Regions from separate parts of the Homo sapiens genome. Here region 1 is linked to region 2. The links come from fine-mapping of genetic effects on gene expression. A gene starts in region 2. The other region holds a variant in brackets. All regions are shown on one strand. Distances are between the middles of the regions. Region 1 overlaps KEAP1 (kelch like ECH associated protein 1). Region 2 holds the start of ICAM4 (intercellular adhesion molecule 4 (Landsteiner-Wiener blood group)).

Region 1 (4,382 bases), 210 kb after region 2:
GTCCCCACCCACCTGCCCCGCTTCGGATGGTGTTCATTGCTGTGATCATTCGCCACTCGTTCCTCTCTGGGTAGTAACACTCAGCTGAATTAAGGCGGTTTGTCCCGTCAAAGCCCCCCACGGCATAAAGGAGACGATTGAGGACAGCCACGCCCACCCCGATCCTTCGTGTCAGCATTGGGGCCACCAAGTGCCACTCATCCCGCTCTGGCTCATACCTGCAAGGGCGTAAGAAAAATGGGGACAATGGCCATTATAGCTGACCTTCGTGGAATACTTAAGGGCCAGATACTCTTTTTTTTCCTTTTTTTTTTCCCCCTTAAAGAGACAGGTTCATCCGGCGCGATGGCTCATGCCTGTAATCCCAGCACTTTGGGAGGCCGAGGAGGGCGGATCACCTGAGCTCAGGAGTTTGAGACCAGCCTGGCCAACATGGTAAAAACCTGTCTCTACTAAAAGTACAAAAATTAGCTGGGTGTGATGGCAGATGCCTGTAATCCCAGCTACTCGGGAGGCTGAGGCGAGATAATCACTTGAACCTGGGAGGCGGAGGTTGCAGCGAGCTGAGATCATGCCACTGCACTCCAACCTGGGCAACAGAGCGAGACTCCATCTCAAAAAAAAAAAAAGAAAAAAAGAGACAGGGTCTTGCTCCGTTGTCCAGGCTGGAGTGCAGTGGTGCAATCACTGAAGCTTCAAACTTTTTTTTTTTTTTTTTTTTTGAGATGGAGTGCAATGGTGAGAGCATGGCTCACTGCAACCTCCACCTCCTGGGTTCAAGCAGTTATTCAGCCTCAGCCTCACAAGTAGCTGGGATAACAGGCACCCACCACCACGCCCGGCTAATTTTTGTATTTTTAGTAGAAATTGGGTTTCGCCATGTTGGCCAGGCTGGTCTCAAACACCTGACCTCAAGTGATCTGCCTGCCTCAGCTTTCCAAAGGGCTGGGATTATAGGCATGAGCCACCACACCCAGCCTGCAGCTATCAACTCTTGGGCTCAAGGAACCCTCCTGGCTCAGCCTCCTGAGTAGCTGGGACTACAGGTGCACACCACCGTGCCCACCTCCACTCGAACTCTAGTGCTTGCAGTTGTTCTCCAAGGATTGAGGTATCAGCAACTCCATTTTCCAAATGACAAAACTGAGCCTCCTAGCCATCAATTGCTCAAGTTCAAAAACACATCTGATAAACCCCTAGTGGCTCAGCCAGATCCCCCACTTCACAGATAACAAGATAACATCTCAGAAAGGAGAAATCACACATTCAGCATCACTCTTTGATGCTCAAAGAGTCCTTTAGGTCCGGCACAGTGGCTCACACCTGTAATCGCAGCACTTTGGGAGGTTGAGGTGGGAGAATCCCTTGAGGACAGGAGTTCAAGACCAGCCTGGCCAACATGGTGAAACCCCATCTCTACAAAAAATACAAAAATTAACCAGGCGTGGTGGTGGGTACTTGTAGTCCCAGCTACCCCAGGGTCTGAGGCAGGAGAATCACTTGAACCTGGGAGGCGAGGTTGCAGTGACCCAAGATGCACTCCAGCCTGGGCAACAGAGCAAGAGAGACAGGGTCTTACTCTATTGCCCAGGCTAGTCTCCTGGACTCAAGCAATCCTCCCACCTCAGCCTCCCAAAGTCCCTGATTATAGGTATGGGCCACAGTGCCTAGCCCAACAATTTCAAACTGATGGAACATTTTCCAACTCCGCACAAAGGAACCATATGGGTTTGTGACAGTCCCCTAAGCATTTCCCAGCCCCAGGCACAGAATCAAAGGTCACTGACTAGAACTCTCCAAGGAGCTTAGCTTCATCCTGAGGCCTCCACTCCCTGAAGACAGGAAGAGGAAACAGCCTCAGGAAGAAT[A/C]CCCGGATCTCAGTGTCTTGGGACTTGCCAGGAGCAGGACCCTCCGAGCCCACCCCCAGGCCCTGCCACTCACCTCTCCACACTGTTGTGGTGGATGCAGCCGTGGGAGCCGCCGACGGCATAGATGTGGCCATCGATGACCCCCACCCCGATGCGGTTACGGGGCACGCTCATGGGGGCGCAGGGCGACCACTGATTGGTCATGGGGTTGTAACAGTCCAGGGCGCTGGAGTCGGTGTTGCCGTCGGGCGAGTTGTTCCTGCCGCCCACGGCGTACAACAGCCCGCCCACCACGCAGCCGGCCAGGCCGCTCCGCGGCACCTGCAGGTCCGCCAACCGGAGCCAGGTGCCGTCACTGGGGTTGTAAGCCTCCAGGTAGCTGAGCGACTGTCGGAAGTAGCCGCCCGCGGTGTAGATCAGGCGGCCCACCTTGGGCGCCCGGCAGGGCATCACCTGCGTGGGCTTGTGCAGGGTGAGCTCCTCGAAGATCTTGACCAGGTAGTCCTTGCAGCGGGAGTCGGACTGCAGGATCTCGCACTTCTGCAGCTGCATCTGCAGGAAGTTCGGCGTCAACGAGTGGCAGCGCACGGCCCGCAGCAGCGCCTGGACGTAGAACCGTCGCTGTTCGCAGTCGTACTTGACCCAGTTGATGCAGGCGTGGAAGACCTCGGACTCGCAGCGCACGTTCAGGTCGTCCCGGCTGATGAGGGTCACCAGTTGGCAGTGGGACAGGTTGAAGAACTCCTCTTGCTTGGCCACCTGCAGAGGGCGACAGTGGGACGGGCTGACTCTCCAGTCACCCCCACACCTCACCAAGCAGGACCGGGACAAGTAACTTATCACTGCCGCTGACAGTCTCAGCTTCCTTATCTGCTAAATGGGGATTCAAATAATAGGAACCGCGTACATTGTGATGACTAAATGAGTTAATCCTGCCGGGCGCGGTGGCTCACGCCTGTAATGCCAGCACTTTGGGAGGCCGAGGCTGGCGGATCACGAGGTCAGGAGTTGAGAGACAAGCCTGGCCAATATGGTGAAACCCCATCTCTACTAAAAATACAAAAATTACCCGGGTGTGGTGGCACACGCCTCTAGTCCCAGCTACTCGGGAGGCTGAAGCAGAAGAATCGCTTGAACCCGGGAGGCGGGAGGCGGAGGTTGCAGTGAGCCGATATTGCGCCACTGCACTCCAGCCTGGGCGACAGAGCAAGACTCTGTCTCAAAGAAAAAAAAAAAAGAGTTAATACTATGTGCCAAGTATGTCATCAGGACTCAGGAAAATGGGCAAAGACTCAGTAGATCGTGTACCCTGGGGTATCATTTGGCTTTGGTTTTTGAGACAGAGTCTCACTCTGTCACCCAGGCTGGAGTGCAGTGGCATGATCTAGGCTCACTGCAACCTCTGCCTCCCAGGTTCAAGCAATTCTCCTGCCTCAGCCTCTCAAGTAGCTGACATTACAGGCACCTACCACCATGCCCCGTTAATTTTTATTTTATTTTATTTTATTTTGATATGGATTCTTACTCTGTTGCCCAAGCTGGAGTGCAGTGGTGTGATCTTGCTTCACTGCAACCTCCGCCACCCAGGTTCAAGTGATTCTCCTGCCTCAGCCTCCCAAGTAGCTAGGATTACAGGAGTGTGCCTCCAGAGCAGCTAATTTTTTTTTTTTTTTTGGAGACAGTCTTGCTCTGTCGCCCAGGCTGGAGTGCAGTGGAGCGATCTCCGCTTGCTGCAACCTCCGCCTCCTGGGTTCACGCCATTCTCCTGCCTCAGCCTCCCGATTAGCTGGGACTACAGGCGCCCGCGACCACGCCCAGCTAAGTTTTTTTGTATTTTTTTAGTAGAGATGGGGTTTCACCGTGTTAGCCAGGATGGTCTCGATCTCCTGACCTTGTGATCCACCCGCCTTAGCCTCCCAAAGTGCTGGGATTACAGGCGTGAGCCACCGCGCCCGGCCATTTTTTTGTATTTATTTTTAGTAGAGACGGAGTTTCACTATGTATTTTTAGTAGAGATGGCATTTCTTCATGTTGGCCAGGCTGGTCTCAAACTCTTTTTTTTTTTTTTTTTTTTTTGAGATGGAGTCTCGCTCTTTTGCCCAGGCCGGACTGCAGTGGCGCTATCTCGGCTCACTGCAAGCTCCACCTCCCGGGTTCACGCCATTCTCCTGCCTCAGCCTCCCGAGTAGCTGGGACTACAGGGGCCCACCACCGTGCCTGGCTAATATTTTTTGTATTTTTAGTAGAGACGGGGTGACTGTGTTAGCCAGGATGATCTTGATCTCCTGACCTCGTGATCCGCCCGCCTCGGCCTCCCAAAGTGCTGGGATTACAAGCGTGAGCCACCTCGCCTGGCCAGTCTTGAACTCTTGACCTTAGGTGATCTGCCCATCTCAGCCTCCCTAAGTGCTAGGATTACAGGCGTGAGCCACCGGACCTGGCCTGTTTTTGCTTTTGAGACACAGTTTTGCTCTGTCACCTAGGCTGTAGTGCAGTGGCACAATCATAGCTCAC
Region 2 (4,382 bases):
TCAGTCAGTGTGACCGCAGAGGACGAGGGCACCCAGCGGCTGACGTGTGCAGTAATACTGGGGAACCAGAGCCAGGAGACACTGCAGACAGTGACCATCTACAGTAAGAAGGGGCAGGGGCGGAGTGGGGCTTCTTGGGGGTGTGACCTGAACCCGGGGCGGGGCTCACTGTGTGCCTATTCCAGGCTTTCCGGCGCCCAACGTGATTCTGACGAAGCCAGAGGTCTCAGAAGGGACCGAGGTGACAGTGAAGTGTGAGGCCCACCCTAGAGCCAAGGTGACGCTGAATGGGGTTCCAGCCCAGCCACTGGGCCCGAGGGCCCAGCTCCTGCTGAAGGCCACCCCAGAGGACAACGGGCGCAGCTTCTCCTGCTCTGCAACCCTGGAGGTGGCCGGCCAGCTTATACACAAGAACCAGACCCGGGAGCTTCGTGTCCTGTGTGAGTGGGGCTGCTGGTCAATGGCCCCTATCCCCCAAGGCCCAATCTCCCTGAAGGTCCCATAAGGTCTTGCCTCCAAGTCCTGCCCCCACCCACCTCCATGTCATCTCATCGTGTTTTTCCAGATGGCCCCCGACTGGACGAGAGGGATTGTCCGGGAAACTGGACGTGGCCAGAAAATTCCCAGCAGACTCCAATGTGCCAGGCTTGGGGGAACCCATTGCCCGAGCTCAAGTGTCTAAAGGATGGCACTTTCCCACTGCCCATCGGGGAATCAGTGACTGTCACTCGAGATCTTGAGGGCACCTACCTCTGTCGGGCCAGGAGCACTCAAGGGGAGGTCACCCGCAAGGTGACCGTGAATGTGCTCTGTGAGTGAGCCGGCGGGCAGAGCTGGGTGGGGGCAGGGGCCATGGACCTAATGCAATCCTCACCGCCTGTTGTATCCTCCCCACAGCCCCCCGGTATGAGATTGTCATCATCACTGTGGTAGCAGCCGCAGTCATAATGGGCACTGCAGGCCTCAGCACGTACCTCTATAACCGCCAGCGGAAGATCAAGAAATACAGACTACAACAGGCCCAAAAAGGGACCCCCATGAAACCGAACACACAAGCCACGCCTCCCTGAACCTATCCCGGGACAGGGCCTCTTCCTCGGCCTTCCCATATTGGTGGCAGTGGTGCCACACTGAACAGAGTGGAAGACATATGCCATGCAGCTACACCTACCGGCCCTGGGACGCCGGAGGACAGGGCATTGTCCTCAGTCAGATACAACAGCATTTGGGGCCATGGTACCTGCACACCTAAAACACTAGGCCACGCATCTGATCTGTAGTCACATGACTAAGCCAAGAGGAAGGAGCAAGACTCAAGACATGATTGATGGATGTTAAAGTCTAGCCTGATGAGAGGGGAAGTGGTGGGGGAGACATAGCCCCACCATGAGGACATACAACTGGGAAATACTGAAACTTGCTGCCTATTGGGTATGCTGAGGCCCCACAGACTTACAGAAGAAGTGGCCCTCCATAGACATGTGTAGCATCAAAACACAAAGGCCCACACTTCCTGACGGATGCCAGCTTGGGCACTGCTGTCTACTGACCCCAACCCTTGATGATATGTATTTATTCATTTGTTATTTTACCAGCTATTTATTGAGTGTCTTTTATGTAGGCTAAATGAACATAGGTCTCTGGCCTCACGGAGCTCCCAGTCCTAATCACATTCAAGGTCACCAGGTACAGTTGTACAGGTTGTACACTGCAGGAGAGTGCCTGGCAAAAAGATCAAATGGGGCTGGGACTTCTCATTGGCCAACCTGCCTTTCCCCAGAAGGAGTGATTTTTCTATCGGCACAAAAGCACTATATGGACTGGTAATGGTTACAGGTTCAGAGATTACCCAGTGAGGCCTTATTCCTCCCTTCCCCCCAAAACTGACACCTTTGTTAGCCACCTCCCCACCCACATACATTTCTGCCAGTGTTCACAATGACACTCAGCGGTCATGTCTGGACATGAGTGCCCAGGGAATATGCCCAAGCTATGCCTTGTCCTCTTGTCCTGTTTGCATTTCACTGGGAGCTTGCACTATGCAGCTCCAGTTTCCTGCAGTGATCAGGGTCCTGCAAGCAGTGGGGAAGGGGGCCAAGGTATTGGAGGACTCCCTCCCAGCTTTGGAAGCCTCATCCGCGTGTGTGTGTGTGTGTATGTGTAGACAAGCTCTCGCTCTGTCACCCAGGCTGGAGTGCAGTGGTGCAATCATGGTTCACTGCAGTCTTGACCTTTTGGGCTCAAGTGATCCTCCCACCTCAGCCTCCTGAGTAGCTGGGACCATAGGCTCACAACACCACACCTGGCAAATTTGATTTTTTTTTTTTTTCCAGAGACGGGGTCTCGCAACATTGCCCAGACTTCCTTTGTGTTAGTTAATAAAGCTTTCTCAACTGCCTCAGCCTTGTGTGAGTTGAGGGGAGGTGTCACATCCAGCTGGAGTCCTTTCTAAGCAGCCACAGCCTGATCCTCCCACTTCCTCCCCCAAGAAAACATTGTGGGTTGATGGCCATACCCTGAGGTTCTGGTCCAAATCGGACTTTCTATGACCTTCTGGGTCTCTAGTGAAAACTAAAGACTCCTCTCCAGAAAAAAACATTTGGTTTCTAATGAGGCCTGGAATCTTATTCTTGACCTGGGGAGCGGAATCCCTTTTTGCAGTACTCCCGGGCCCTCTGTTGGGGCCTCCCCTTCCTCTCCAGGGTGGAGTCGAGGAGGCGGGGCTGCGGGCCTCCTTATCTCTAGAGCCGGCCCTGGCTCTCTGGCGCGGGGCCCCTTAGTCCGGGCTTTTTGCCATGGGGTCTCTGTTCCCTCTGTCGCTGCTGTTTTTTTTGGCGGCCGCCTACCCGGGAGTTGGGAGCGCGCTGGGACGCCGGACTAAGCGGGCGCAAAGCCCCAAGGGTAGCCCTCTCGCGCCCTCCGGGACCTCAGTGCCCTTCTGGGTGCGCATGAGCCCGGAGTTCGTGGCTGTGCAGCCGGGGAAGTCAGTGCAGCTCAATTGCAGCAACAGCTGTCCCCAGCCGCAGAATTCCAGCCTCCGCACCCCGCTGCGGCAAGGCAAGACGCTCAGAGGGCCGGGTTGGGTGTCTTACCAGCTGCTCGACGTGAGGGCCTGGAGCTCCCTCGCGCACTGCCTCGTGACCTGCGCAGGAAAAACACGCTGGGCCACCTCCAGGATCACCGCCTACAGTGAGGGACAGGGGCTCGGTCCCGGCTGGGGTGAGGGGAGGGGGCTGGAAGAGGTGGGGGAAGGGTAGTTGACAGTCGCTCTATAGGGAGCGCCCGCGGACCTCACTCAGAGGCTCCCCCTTGCCTTAGAACCGCCCCACAGCGTGATTTTGGAGCCTCCGGTCTTAAAGGGCAGGAAATACACTTTGCGCTGCCACGTGACGCAGGTGTTCCCGGTGGGCTACTTGGTGGTGACCCTGAGGCATGGAAGCCGGGTCATCTATTCCGAAAGCCTGGAGCGCTTCACCGGCCTGGATCTGGCCAACGTGACCTTGACCTACGAGTTTGCTGCTGGACCCCGCGACTTCTGGCAGCCCGTGATCTGCCACGCGCGCCTCAATCTCGACGGCCTGGTGGTCCGCAACAGCTCGGCACCCATTACACTGATGCTCGGTGAGGCACCCCTGTAACCCTGGGGACTAGGAGGAAGGGGGCAGAGAGAGTTATGACCCCGAGAGGGCGCACAGACCAAGCGTGAGCTCCACGCGGGTCGACAGACCTCCCTGTGTTCCGTTCCTAATTCTCGCCTTCTGCTCCCAGCTTGGAGCCCCGCGCCCACAGCTTTGGCCTCCGGTTCCATCGCTGCCCTTGTAGGGATCCTCCTCACTGTGGGCGCTGCGTACCTATGCAAGTGCCTAGCTATGAAGTCCCAGGCGTAAAGGGGGATGTTCTATGCCGGCTGAGCGAGAAAAAGAGGAATATGAAACAATCTGGGGAAATGGCCATACATGGTGGCTGACGCCTGTAATCCCAGCACTTTGGGAGGCCGAGGCAGGAGAATCGCTTGAGCCCAGGAGTTCGAGACCAGCCTGGACAACATAGTGAGACCCCGTCTATGCAAAAAATACACAAATTAGCCTGGTGTGGTGGCCCGCACCTGTGGTCCCAGCTACCCGGGAGGCTGAGTTGGGAGGATCCTTTGAGCCCTGAAAGTCGAGGTTGCAGTGAGCCTTGATCGTGCCACTGCACTCCAGCCTGGGGGACAGAGCACGACCCTGTCTCCAAAAATAAAATAAAAATAAAAATAAATATTGGCGGGGGAACCCTCTGGAATCAATAAAGGCTTCCTTAACCAGCCTCTGTCCTGTGACCTAAGGGTCCGCATTACTGCCCTTCTTCGGAGGAACTGGTTTGTTTTTGTTGTTGTTGTTGTT

The links. PIP is the estimated chance that this variant, and not a neighbour inherited with it, causes the effect.
Region 1: its variant is the best candidate, but not a certain one, in a credible set for the expression of ICAM4 in monocytes (Fairfax 2014, PIP 0.51).

What each region holds. Positions count from the first base shown.
Region 1 is chr19:10,489,636-10,494,017 of GRCh38, forward strand. It overlaps KEAP1 (kelch like ECH associated protein 1), which reads right to left. Exons shown (of 6, transcript NM_203500.2): 3 at 1,942-2,627; 4 at 13-218. Among named protein-coding and RNA genes, the nearest start is that of KEAP1, 12 kb to the right of the region's middle. RefSeq lists an enhancer at 2,284-2,784. The variant A/C (reference allele first, on the strand shown) is at 1,869.
Region 2 is chr19:10,284,218-10,288,599 of GRCh38, forward strand. ICAM4 (intercellular adhesion molecule 4 (Landsteiner-Wiener blood group)) reads left to right here and starts at 2,738. Exons shown (of 3, transcript NM_001544.5): 1 at 2,738-3,189; 2 at 3,319-3,621; 3 at 3,769-4,303. The coding sequence starts at 2,796. The coding sequence ends at 3,887. ICAM1 (intercellular adhesion molecule 1) reads left to right here. Exons shown (of 7, transcript NM_000201.3): 4 at 1-103; 5 at 186-440; 6 at 566-811; 7 at 898-2,398. The coding sequence ends at 1,070. It overlaps ICAM4-AS1 (ICAM4 antisense RNA 1), which reads right to left. Exons shown (of 1, transcript NR_186335.1): 1 at 1,584-4,382. RefSeq lists enhancers at 2,306-2,355, 2,410-3,379, 2,726-2,865.